Linked DNA regions of Homo sapiens: regions 1 and 3 are each linked to region 2. The links come from fine-mapping of genetic effects on gene expression. A gene starts in region 2. Each other region holds a variant in brackets. All regions are shown on one strand. Distances are from middle to middle.

Region 1 (4,249 bases), 880 kb before region 2:
GGTCAGTAATTATATAAATGGATGCTATTTAAAAATATTTTATAATTAAATGTGCCAACATTTGAGAGATTTGCATAAATCAATAAAACAATATTTTCCAATTGAAAAATATACAGGGTTATAAAATCATAGGCTGGGAAAAGATCCAGTCAAATTCAAAATACACCAATGGATTTTAATGTACCAGATGATAAAAAGTTTACTGATACGGTTTCAGTTAACACATTGCAACTAACTTTTAATAGACTACACTTTGTGGAGTTTTGGTATAGTATAAAAGAAGAATATGCAATATTACCTAAATATATTATTGAGAGATTGCCTGCCATAAAAACAGCATGAGTTTGAGTGAGAAAAGTAATTCCATCAGCCTCCTCTTGTTCCCCAAAATGGCTAGCTACAGAGAGTTTGTCACTGAAGATTAAGCAAGTTTTTCCTCTTTTGAAATCTCCCCAAATCGCTTATCTACCCAATTGCAGCCAACCAAGTGAGAGAGCTGAGTATAAAGGGGTCACCAGAGAACCCCCAACCCACCTGTCCCTGGGATGAGTGCACACTGGGATGGAGCCTCGGGAAGTTTGTTCATTTGCAGTGGGGAGGAGCTTGGCCCCTCCTCTTCCTGGGTGGAACCTGGAATTCAATCTGTGAGGCAGGACGCACACTTGCAGGACCCTAGCTTTGCAGAGAGTCCTGTTTCCCTTTCTGTCCATTTTTGCTCAAAAATTCCATTTTTTTCAACCTTCAAAGTGTCTGCGAGTCTAATATCTCATGGCCATGTGACAAGAAACTGGCTCTTAGCTGAACTAAGGAAAAAGTCCTACGACACAAGGACACAAAAATGTACCTGAAGAACAATTAGAAAGTCTCCACCACTTTCAAAAATCCCGTAAGAGTGTTAAGAAAACTTGCTAATCAGAGTCTATCTATCTCAGGACTTACTCCTTTTCCTCTATAAAACCAAAACTTCCTTCAAATACCTTTGAATCCTGCTGAAAAGAGCATGGCCACAGATAGTTTCCTTTAAGGCTGCATGATCAGGAATAAGTAGCATTTACTAATTTTGTCTCAAATTTAATTTTATCTTTGACATTATTAAAATAATTATTCCTTTTCCTACTATATTTCTGTGTAAGCCTGATTTTTTATACTTTAACCAAAACAACATATTATAATAGGTTGAATGCAAAAGAGTTTTGAGAATTCAACTATTTCCTAATAAGCCAGATAGATTTTAAATCTGCAATAATGTAGAAAAATGCTACTCTTCTCACCAATTATTTTTTAGTTTAGAAATGTATTTTTAGAAAGATACGTTATTTAGGTTAACATGTAATGGGTTAATCTTGCTATTTTTAAATTATTCAATAAACTTTTAAATCTCAGTTTTAATTTCAAGTGTAGTAAATATTAAAAGATATAAGCCATAAAACAAAATTATTTGGGGTCTTCAATATTTTAAGGGTGCAGCGGTGTCCTGAAACAAAAACTTTGAGAATTTCTTTCCTAGCCTTTCATTATGAGTTCTAATTCCCATAAATACATGAGATTTCTTATATATAGCAATTATGATAAAAGTACTCAACATATTTTAAAAATCCTTGAATTCAGACTTTTGTCCCCATCATGCACTTGTCAATACAATGTGTACTGTTCACAGTATGTCAAATAGGAACAACACAGGATAGCTACATGTCAAAAAGTAAAATTGGTAACACTTGAAACATACAACTGGATAGATTTATAGTGTGCATTAGTCAATGTGCTCCAGAGAAACAGAACCAATAAGACATATGATTAGATAGATAGATGCCAGATAGATAGATAGATAGATAGATAGATAGATAGATAGATAGATAGATAGATAGAT[TA/A]GATAGATAGATAGATGATAGAAAATAGATGCTTAGATGGTTGGTAGGTAGGTAGGTAGGTAGACAGATAGATGGAAATTTATTATGGGAATTGGCTCATGCAATTATGGATGCCGAGAAGTTCCACAGTTTGCCATCTGCAGGCTGGAGAACTAGGAAAACCTGTGGTATAATTGAGTTTGATACTGAAGGTCTGAGAACCAGGAGCACCAATGTTCCAGGACAGAAGAAGATGATTGTTCTAGCTCAAGAAGAGAGAGAGTGAATTTTTCCTTCCTCTGCCTTTTTGTTCTATTCAGGGACATGACAAAATGGGGGATGCCCACCCACATTGAGGAGCAAGACTTTTACTCAGTCTGTTGATTCAAATGATAATCTTTCCTGGAAACTCATTCAAAGACATACCAAAAATACAATTTTTCCAGCTATCTGGCTATTCCTTAACTCAGAGGCAAGTTGACACATACAATTACACATCACAGAGTGTATTCCATTCATTAATATTTTGTACATATTTAAATTATGGTGGTGCTGAATTTAATTTCAAATAATCAAAAGAAAAAAGAATAGGGAAAAAAGCAATATTGTTTTTCTAAAAAAATGATACTGTGCCTTTTCTGACACATTTTAGCAATTACCAAAACTTTTGTTCACATTTTGTTTTACTTTACAATTATATCTTCAGCTGTATGCCATGGAAATGTATTTCTTATTTACTTCACAAGAGTACTTTTATAATGGAACAATTAACAACACACAAATTGTTAATTCCTTGTTAGTTTGAAACCATCTGGTGTCAAATTCTATACACGAGGGTGGGATTTGAAACAGACATGCTTCCCGCAACATGTTCAGTGTTAATCACCAGTGAAACCTGATGAAAATAGTCTCTCTGTTTTTAGAAATGCTTCTATTGTTTTAGACTTAAAAAAAATGGTATTATGTTCATTTTACAAGAATTTATATTGAAATTTAATTAAATTGTTTTTGTCCAGGGCAATAATAACATCTGTGTCAGAAGTTTTACAAGGAATAATATATGAGATGCATCATATTTATCTATAATCACATGTAACATGATCTGATCTGTGGAATCAGTAGTGTCTTACAGTGTTTTAGAGTTTTTTTTTTACATTTAGGGAATATTTTATAAAGTATATTACATTGTATGCTCAGTGTGGCTAAAAATAAAATGGTAGAAGCATAAAAATACCCCAAATTCCAAGTTCCATTACTTACTATGTATTTAAGTATACATATAAAATATATCTGAATCTTGATACATCATAAAAGAAGATGTGGCATTTTTATCATGTCATCCCTCTTCAAATTTTATTATTCTATCTACATTTTCATTCACCTAAGGTATCATGCTGACCCACTTACTTATTCCTTAATGATTTCTGATTATTCATTGGTCCAGATATTTCAGACTTTCCCCATGAAAATGGTGGGAGGTTTGAACAATTTGGAAAATCACGACTGTCAGTAGAGAAGTAGCTGCTTTCTTCTGTCACAGGCACAATTTGACAAGCTTGCTTGGGTTTCTGGAAAAGACAGTGGTTTTAAAATTCACTTTAAAAGCAATTCTCTTACCTTCAACTCACTTAGGAACTAAAAATAAGAAAATATTATTTACAAGGAAATCCAGAAACATATTTTATTATAGAAATTTCTCTGCTATTTGCAGTATAAGATAAATGAAATAAAATGGCTGTTAAGATCAACCTACAAGTTTTTATATTACTAATCAAAGGGCAGTGTTGGCTGGCCATGGTGGCTCCTGCCTGTGATCCCAGCACTTTGAAAGGCAGAAGTGGGTAGATCAACTGAGGTTAGGAGTTCGAGACCAGTCTGCCCAGCATGGTGAAACCCCATCTCTACTAAAGGAGGCTGAGGCAGGAGAATTGCTTGACCCTGGGAGGCAGAGGCTGCAGTGAGCTGAGATCATGCCACTGTACTCCAGCCTGGGCAAAAGAGTGAGACTGTCTCAAAAAAAAAAAAAAAAAAAAAAAAAAAAAAAAAGGCAATGTTGTCAAATACGGCCCAGATTTTGAAATAAACTACTGACTTTCATTTCATGGTTTGGTGGGGTAAAGGCTGAAGCAGGGCCAACATGTGGGTTGGAAACTCTACTGATATTAGCAGTGATAAAATAGCCAGAAAAAAAAAAAACAACATATTGCCAAATTACACCCTGAAAACATATCTCGTATCTAGCTTACTACCTTGGCGGAATGAGGCCTGGAAATGACCTATCTGGAACCGCAAAACAAATCTTGCTAAAGGGAAGAGCTGTGCTAATACACATTGCCAAATGTTCAAAACGTCACTGCATGGGTGTGTCTCTTCTGACGTATACCTGCTCCTGCTGACACATC
Region 2 (4,249 bases):
TGAAAATCAAGTCAGGAATGCCATCTAATTTATAATGGATACAAAAAAATAAAACACCTAGGAATACAGCTAACCAGGGATGCGGAAGATCTCTACAATGAGAATTACAAAGCACTGCTCGAAAAATCAGAGATGACATAAACAAGTGGAAAAACATGCTATGCTTGAGAATAGAGAGAATCGATATAATTAAAATGGCCTTACTGTCCAAAGAAATTTACAGATTTGCTATTTCTGTCAAACTACCAATGTCATTCTTCACAGAACTAGAAAAGAAAACTCTTTTAAAATTCATTAGAAACAAACAAATAAACAAAGCCTAAGGCAATCCTAAGCAAAAAGGACAAAGATAGAGGCATATCTAACCAACTTGAAACTGCACTATAGCGCTACAGAAATCAAAACAGTGTGGTACTGGTATAAAAACAGACACGTAGACCAATGGAACACAATACAGACCCCAGAAATAAGTCTGCACACCTACAACCATCTCATCCTTGATAAAAATGACAAAAATAAGCAATAGGGAAAGGACTATTCAATAAATGGGTAACTGGCTAGCCATATGCAAAAAATGGAAACTGGACCCCTCTCTTTCATTATATATATATACACATACATACATATATATTTAAATCAACTCAAGATAGATTGAAGACTTAAATGCAAAACTCAAAACTATAAAAACCCTGGAAGACAACAAGGCAATACCATTATAGACATAGAAACTGACAAGTATTTCATAATAAAGACACCAAAAACAACAGCAACAAAAGTAAAAATTGATTAATGAGATCTAATTATACTAAAGAGCTTCTGCACAGCAAAAGAAACTATCAACAGAGTAAACTGACAACCTACAAAATGGGAGAAAATATTTGCAAACAATGTATCTGACAAAGATCTAATATCCAGCATCTATAAGGAACTTAAACAAATTTACAGGGGAAAAACAACCCCATTAAAAAGTGAGCAATAGCCATGAACAATCACTTTTCAAAAGAAAACATATATGTGGTCAAAAAACCTGTATCAAGCTCAGTATCACAGATCATTACAGAAATGAAAATCAAAACCACAATGAGATACTATTGTGTCCAGAATTGGTGGGTTCTTGGTCTCACTGACTTCAAGAATGAAGCCTCGGACCCTCGCGGTGAGTGTTACAGCTCTTAAGGTGGCGCGCGTCTGGAGTTTGTTCCTTCTGATGTTCGGATGTGTTCAGTTTCTTCCTTCTGGTGGGTTCGTGGTCTCGCTAGCTCAGGAGTGAAGCTGCAGACCTTCGCGGTGAGTGTTACAACTCATAAAAGCAGTGTGGACCCAAAGAGTGAGCAGTAGCAAGATTTATTGCAAAGAGCGAAAGAACAAAGCCTCCACAGTGTGGAAGGGGTCCCGAGCGGGTTGCCACTGCTGGTTCAGGCAGCCTGCTTTTATTCTCTTATCTGGCCCCACCCACATCCTGCTGATTGGTAGAGCCCAGTGGTCTGTTTTGACAGGGCGCTGACTGGTGCGTTTACAATCCCTGAGCTAGACACAAAGGTTCTCCACGTCCCCACTAGATTAGCTAGATACAGAGTGTCCATTGGTGCATTCACAAACTCTGAGCTAGACACAGGGTGCAGACTGGTGTGTTTACACACCTTGAGCTAGATACAGAGTGCCAATTGGTGTATTTACAATCCCTGAGCTAGACATTAAGGTTCTCCAAGACCCCACCAGAGTAGCTAGATACAGAGTGTCGATTGGTGCATTCACAAACCCTGAGCTAGATACAAGGTGCTGATTGGTGTATTTACAAACCTTGAGCTGGACATAAAGGTTCTCCATGTCCTCACCAGACTCAGGAGCCCAGCTGGCTTCACCCAGTGGATCCCTCACCGGGGCTGCAGGTGGAGCTGCCTGCCAGTCCCGCGCCGCGCGCCCGCACTCCTCAGCCCTTGGGTGGTCGATGGGACTGGGCGCCCTGGAGCAGGGGGCGGCGCTCATCCGGGAGGCTCGGGCAGCACAGGAGCCAACGGAGGGGGTGGGAGGCTCAGGCATGGCGGGCTGCAGGTCCCGAGCCCTGCCCTGAGGGAAGGCAGCTAAGGCCCAGCGAGAAATCGAACGCAGCGCCGGTGGGCTGTCACTGCTGGGGTACCCAGTACACCCTCCACAGTCGCTGGCCCGGAGGGTGTACTCCTCATTGCTCGGCCGCGGCGGGGCCAGCCGGCTGCTCCGAGTGCAGGGCCCGCCAAGCCCACGCCCACCCGGAACTCCAGCTGGCCGCAAGCGCCGCGCGCAGCGCCGGAAGCGCCGCGCGCAGCCCCGGTTCCCGCTGTCGCCTTTCCCTCCACACCTCCCTGCAAGCTGAGGGAGCCGGCTCCGGCCTTGGCCAGCCCAGAAAGGGGCTGCCACAGTGCAGCGGTGGGCTGAACGGCTCCTCAAGTGCCGCCAAAGTGAGAACCCAGGCAGAGGAGGCGCCGAGAGCGAGCGAGGGCTGTGAGGACTGCCAGCACGTTGTCACCTCTCAATATCTTTGATGAGTTCCAAAATTTTTAAATATTAAATATTTATAATACTTTAAGATTTATTTGAAAATGTTAATGAAACAAAGTGTAGAATCTGGATGCAATTCAAAAATGCCTCAAATATTTTATCTCACACCACATATGACATTAGTAAAATTATATTCATGACCTATACATCTTAAAAAACATTGAAACTTGCTTAGTTATAATTTAGCAAAAAAAAATTTTTTTAAAAACCTGTGAGATGGGCATTTAGCAAAAAAAAAAAATCTTGCTTAATTAATTTTGACCCCTTCTAAAAGTTCTTCTCACTCGTTTATCACTTATAATTTATATCTAAATAGTTAAATAATATATTTCATTTATAAATTGGAGAGATAATTATCTTAGCAAATTTCTTTAATTACACAATTGTATTTATCTTCAGTCATTGAGAGTTATGTAAGACTTAACTTCATATATTAGAGAAAAAAAGGAGTATTTACATCTTAAATTGTACAATATAACTTCTTTTTTTACCCATGTGATGTAGTTATGTTGATTAATACATTTGGTTGTAATTCCACATATTGTAAGTAACATTACATTTTTAGTAAGCCATTTCTTGCTGTGTAATCAACACTAATTCACTCTGGCTTCTAACGCTTATGCCCATATTTCCATGTTTGAAGGGTGACTATTGCTCTACTAGACTCATATATGATTGTCTTGACTTAATGTTAAGCTGCAAATTACATGCAAATCTCCTCCATATATTTCCTAACTCTCTTTAAATCATTGGTTACTATTCAGCTCCTCAAATCACTGTCTTTTGATGGCAGATCCAAAACAGCAAAAAGACAGGCCAACTTCCTGAATCATAGGTATAGCCTTTGCTTATATCTCACTTTACTCTCTTTTGACCACCGTAAGCCAGAGAGCAAATCCCAAATTTATGGAGCCAGAAAGGAGTGAATGTTTGTTGAGAAGTATCTCATTTTGTATCATACATATTATCTTCGCTGGGTCTGTTTCTTAGTATTAATGTGTACATGCATGTACACACACAACTATTATTACACTTAAAATTTACATAAACAGTTAAATTTTGGATTGATACTCATAATTAAAATACTATTTGTATACTTAATGACAACTCTTGGATTTAGGATTAGTATCAATCAATAAACCATCTGGTAACAAAATTTCCAAAAAAAAAAAAACAAATCTAAAGTTATGTCTTTTTTGTCAAAGTTTTTAAAAACAATTTAAAAAGAGAAATTAAAAAACTATAGTGAGAGTCTTCCAGTTACAGCTTTGATGTGTAGAAAACTTGGAAGTCATTACTCCTGCCTTTCTTTTTGTTTTGTTTTGTTTTTGACATGTAGTCTCATTCATTTCACTCACTCTGTTGCCCAGGCTAGAGTGTGCTGGCGCCATCTTGGCTCACTGCAATCTCTGCCTCCGGAATTCAAGTGATTCTCCTGCCTCAGCCTCCTGAGTAGCTGGGATTGCATGTGTGCCACCGTGCTTGGCTGATTTTGTATTTTTAGTAGAGATGGGCTTTCACCATGTTTACCAGGCTGCTCTGTAACTCCTGACCTCAGGTGATCCACCCGCCTCAGCCTCCCAAAGTGCTGGGATTACAGGTATGAGCCACTGCTTCCGGCCCCTATCAAGAAGAAGAAGAAGAAGGAGGAGGAGTGGGAGGGGAAGGGGGAGGAAGGGAAGGAGGAAAGAAGAGGAAGAGAAAGAAGGGGAAG
Region 3 (4,249 bases), 220 kb before region 2:
GGAGCAAGACAGAGAGGTGAGATACACTTTTAAACAACCAGATCTCATGAGAACTCACTATCACAACGACAGTACCAAGGAAGATGGTGCTAAAGCATTCCTGAGAAACTGCCCGCATAATCCAATCTCCTCCCACCAGGCCCCACTTCCAACATTGAGAATAACAACTGCGATGCGGGTGAGGACACAGATCCAAACCATATCAGACATATTTTAAAGAAGTGATGGGGAAGTATTAAAAACAAAAGTATCATTCAGCAGAGCAAGGTGGGAGGATCTTTGCCTATGTCTTTATTACCAAGGAACCATCTTAGCATGTTGAATCCTGTATGTGTTCAAGCTATTTTATTTTCACTTTTTCTTCTCTATTTACATAGAGAGAACACGAGCAAAGCTTGTGGTCTGAGGATTATGCCAACTGTAGACAATATTTAAAAGTTTGGGCCGGGCAAGTTGGCTTACGCCTGTAATCCCAGCACTTTGGGAGGCTGAGGCGGGCGGATCACGAGGTCAGAAGATCGAGACCATCCTGGCTAACACGGTGAAACCCCTTCTCTACTAAAAATACAAAAAATTAGCCGGGCGTGGTGGCGGGTGTCTGTAGTCCCAGCTACTCAGGAGGCTGAGACAGGAGAATGGAGTGAACTGGGGAGGCGGAGCTTGCAGTGAGCCAAGATCACCTCACTGCACTCCAGCCTGGGTGACAGAGCGAGACTCCGCTTCAAAAAAAGATAAATAAATAAAATTAAATTAAAAATAAATAAATAAATAAAAAGTGTGCAGAATAAATTGAAACTATTTAAGAAACATGATTTATGTCATAAAAAGAAATGATCATTTTATTGTGATGAATATACATTAAAACAAAATACATGTTAAAGTAAGTTTATTTCAGTTATGTTATTAAAAGTAATATATAAACAATATTTCAAAAAACTTTTTCATACTCTGTGATCCACTTCTCTTCTTCCAAGTGACTTTTCTCATAGTGTCATATTCTATTTGTATTTAAAAGGAAAATTAATCCATATGGTTTCGCATTCTTTATATTTATCTCATCGCAATGTTTTGCATGAACTGTTTTCTATCTCAAAATGTTCTAAACCTTTTAAAAGCCTTTTATTCTACGTTGCAGAGAGCTATTATATACACAATTTAAGTCAAGGCTGAAAGGACTCAAATTTATTTGCAAATGAAAATCTCATAGGGTTAGAATGAATTAAAAACACTTCCTGTTAAAATATATGTGAATATGTGTGAAAATTGTTATACCAAAAACAATTTTGGCATTTTAACTTATTCTGACCTTTTTCTTCCAATATTTAGGGTGATATGATTGTTAACCAGAAATATGCATATTTATTTGAAAATACAGATAATTTTTCTCCCTTCAGTCCAAATATGGGTGTTTCTGATTGATAATAATTGGGATTCTACTTTGACAATGTATTTCACTGCTCAAAATAAAATAGCATTAATTAATAGGCCCAATATAACCTCACTATGTTTTTCTTTTTCCTGGATTTATGAACGCAACATATGACACAACCTTCTATCACTTTTATATGCTCTTCAGAAAGGTTCTCCTTCACAAACTCTGTACCACTGACTGCCTCCATCACTAGTTTATTACTTATGATAAGCAATGTTAAATTATGAAATACATACCTTATACTTTTTTTCCCAAA[C/T]ATGTTATAAGATGATTCATTATAGATACTGTTTTCTGCTTTTCTTGTGTTTCACAAACTGCTAAAGACTATGGTATGTGCTTAGAATTTGTACAATAAGCACATGACTCATTTCCTATTATTCCACTTGTAGCTAATTATTGAGCTTTGTATCCAAGCTTTGCTTACCCATGATCTGTTATTTATTAATGCCTCTCCTCTGAGAAAAAGTCTTAATTTTCCTGAGACACAATAGGCACCTGAGTGAAAGGAGAGTTGATCCAAAAATACTGTGTTTGCACAAAGACTATGAAGACTTATGGTAAAATATTCCAGTTTCTTTCAAAGAACAAAGGCCAGATATTAGGAGAAGGTATAAATATTTTCACATCATTGCTTTGTGTCACTCTTTTACTTTCTGCTCCATCCCCAATAATTCATAATGTGGTTAAATGGCACGCAAGTTGCAATTAGACACACACAAAAACACACAGCAGTGAAAGAAAATTTCTTAGCATTTCTGTGGCATCATGAGTTCAAAGTATCACCAGTAGCATTGGCAATGGCTTGAATAGAAATGGGACATAAGTATTTTGATACATACATCAGCTCTGTTGATATCAGTGAACAGCTAATTACAGCCGTATGTCAAGGAAGCACAAATATCAGTCAGCTCTTATCAGTGTTATTTCCTTGAAAAAGCAAGCAGATCAACTACTACCACTTTTGGGGGAAAAAGATTAGTACTCTCCCTATTAAACATTAAAAAATCTCAATGTGGATTCCATAATTTATCTGCAGCAATACTGGTTTCAGCACCATAGCTGCTGTAGGGGTAACTGTGGTGACTGAAAATGTCACCAGATAATAGTACAGATGGATGGAGGAAAGTAGACATGCCATAAAGTATCTATAATGAACAATTTTCAGAGCAAACGGTAATATCCTCTATTTCAAAATGATTTGAAAGAGGCCAAAACTTTTGAAGAGTAAGTGAGCACAGAACTTCAAAATGCTTGCGACACTTATAACGGTCTATTTTTATTTTCAAGCTGTTGAGGGCTGAGAAATATAGAATCGTTTTAGTTCTGTTCAGGAGGCATTAAATGGAAAGCTACAATTTACTAGGCACTATTCTGGGTGTGAGAGACATAGAGATTAGGTGGACATATTTCTTGCTTCTCCAATGGGGAAGACAGATGCTTAAAGAGATTGTTTTTATATAATGTTACATACATTATAACAGATAAATATAAATTATTTCAGTCTTTGTCAAAGTGATTCTTCAAATACTTGAGCTTTTAAGGATGAGTAAAAAAAAAGGCCAAAAAGTTTACCTAATCAAAAAGGGAAAATTAGAAGAGCTAACACTTATTCAGTGATTTATTGTGATTCATATTCTTCTAAGCACTTTACATGGATCATTCATTAATCCTGAAAACAACTCTGTGGGATGGTTCTATTGTCATATCAATTTTACAGATGGGGAAATCAAGGCTCAGAATAGTCAAATAACTTACATAACTTCACAAAGCTAATGACATAGAGGATGGATTAAGAACCCAGGCAATTTGACCCCAGGGCAACACAGTGTTTTGCTAAACAGATCATGGAGAACTGTATAAAACCATTTTCCACTTACTCTAATTATTTCAGTGAGCCATTAAAAAAATTTAAGTAGGCATAAAACAGTAAGGTATTTGCTAAAGGTCTGAAAATCTTCTACTGCAGAATTTTGAGATGATTTAGAACTAGAGGCTGGGAGACCATTTAGAGATAATTGCATGTGAATTCTGCCAGGGTCCGGCTTATGACAGATGTAGAAGTGAGTGGAAAGGGGGATGGATTTGAGATACAGAAATGAGAATTTCCATGAATCGATACTTGATCGGGTGCATAAAGTAAGTAAGAGATGAAGGATGGTTGTGTAGATGACATTAAATTTAACTGAGAGGAAATGCAAGCGTAATGGGTTTGGAGTGTGAATTGAAAAATGGGATAGATGTTTTGGGATAAATGAGAGTGAAATGTCTGTTAAGCATTTATAGATATGCATGCAACAAAGTTCAATGTATGAGTCTGAAGAAGAGAAAAAAGTTTGCAAGTTATATTTCAAATTCCCTTAGTTCAACTTAACAAATGTTATTGAGCAATTAATATAATTCAGTTTTGATACCAGAAAATATTTTCTTCTCTCAAGGATCTAAACATTTATGAATGGTTATCACTATATAGGTGGGACACAAATTACATTACTCTACAAGTACATTAGATTGAAAGGAGAAACGAACCAAAAGCAGAGTAAAGGGGACAAATGAGGTCAATTAAGATGGCAAAAAAGTTAGAAGGAATACTGACAAAATATAATATTATGAATGAAATGGAAATAGAATTTAAAGAGGGGTGAGTTTAACAGTGACGTGCACTGCACAATGATCATATGCAGCAATTCTTTTTAATATTTCTATCTTGGTTATTCCTGTTTCAAAATATTTATTGGCAATCTGAGAATGACTCTATTCATCCAACAACGCACACTAAATAGGCCCAGAAAATACCATTATTCTTTCAGCTCCTCCAGC

The links. PIP is the estimated chance that this variant, and not a neighbour inherited with it, causes the effect. A credible set is the group of variants that fine-mapping cannot tell apart.
Region 1: its variant is the best candidate, but not a certain one, in a credible set for the expression of LINC02899 in monocytes after LPS (Fairfax 2014, PIP 0.87).
Region 3: its variant is the best candidate, but not a certain one, in a credible set for the expression of LINC02899 in thyroid (GTEx, PIP 0.53).

Annotation. Positions count from the first base shown.
Region 1 is chr5:24,832,152-24,836,400 of GRCh38, reverse strand. LINC02239 (long intergenic non-protein coding RNA 2239) reads left to right here. Exons shown (of 3, transcript NR_037896.1): 3 at 1-1,121. Among named protein-coding and RNA genes, the nearest start is that of LINC02239, 6.3 kb to the left of the region's middle. The variant TA/A (reference allele first, on the strand shown) is at 1,868.
Region 2 is chr5:23,949,355-23,953,603 of GRCh38, reverse strand. LINC02899 (long intergenic non-protein coding RNA 2899) reads right to left here and starts at 2,256. Exons shown (of 5, transcript NR_131245.1): 1 at 1,801-2,256. RefSeq lists an enhancer at 1,547-2,046.
Region 3 is chr5:24,165,542-24,169,790 of GRCh38, reverse strand. All of the region lies in intron 4 of LINC02899 (long intergenic non-protein coding RNA 2899), which reads right to left. Among named protein-coding and RNA genes, the nearest start is that of LINC02899, 220 kb to the right of the region's middle. The variant C/T (reference allele first, on the strand shown) is at 1,689.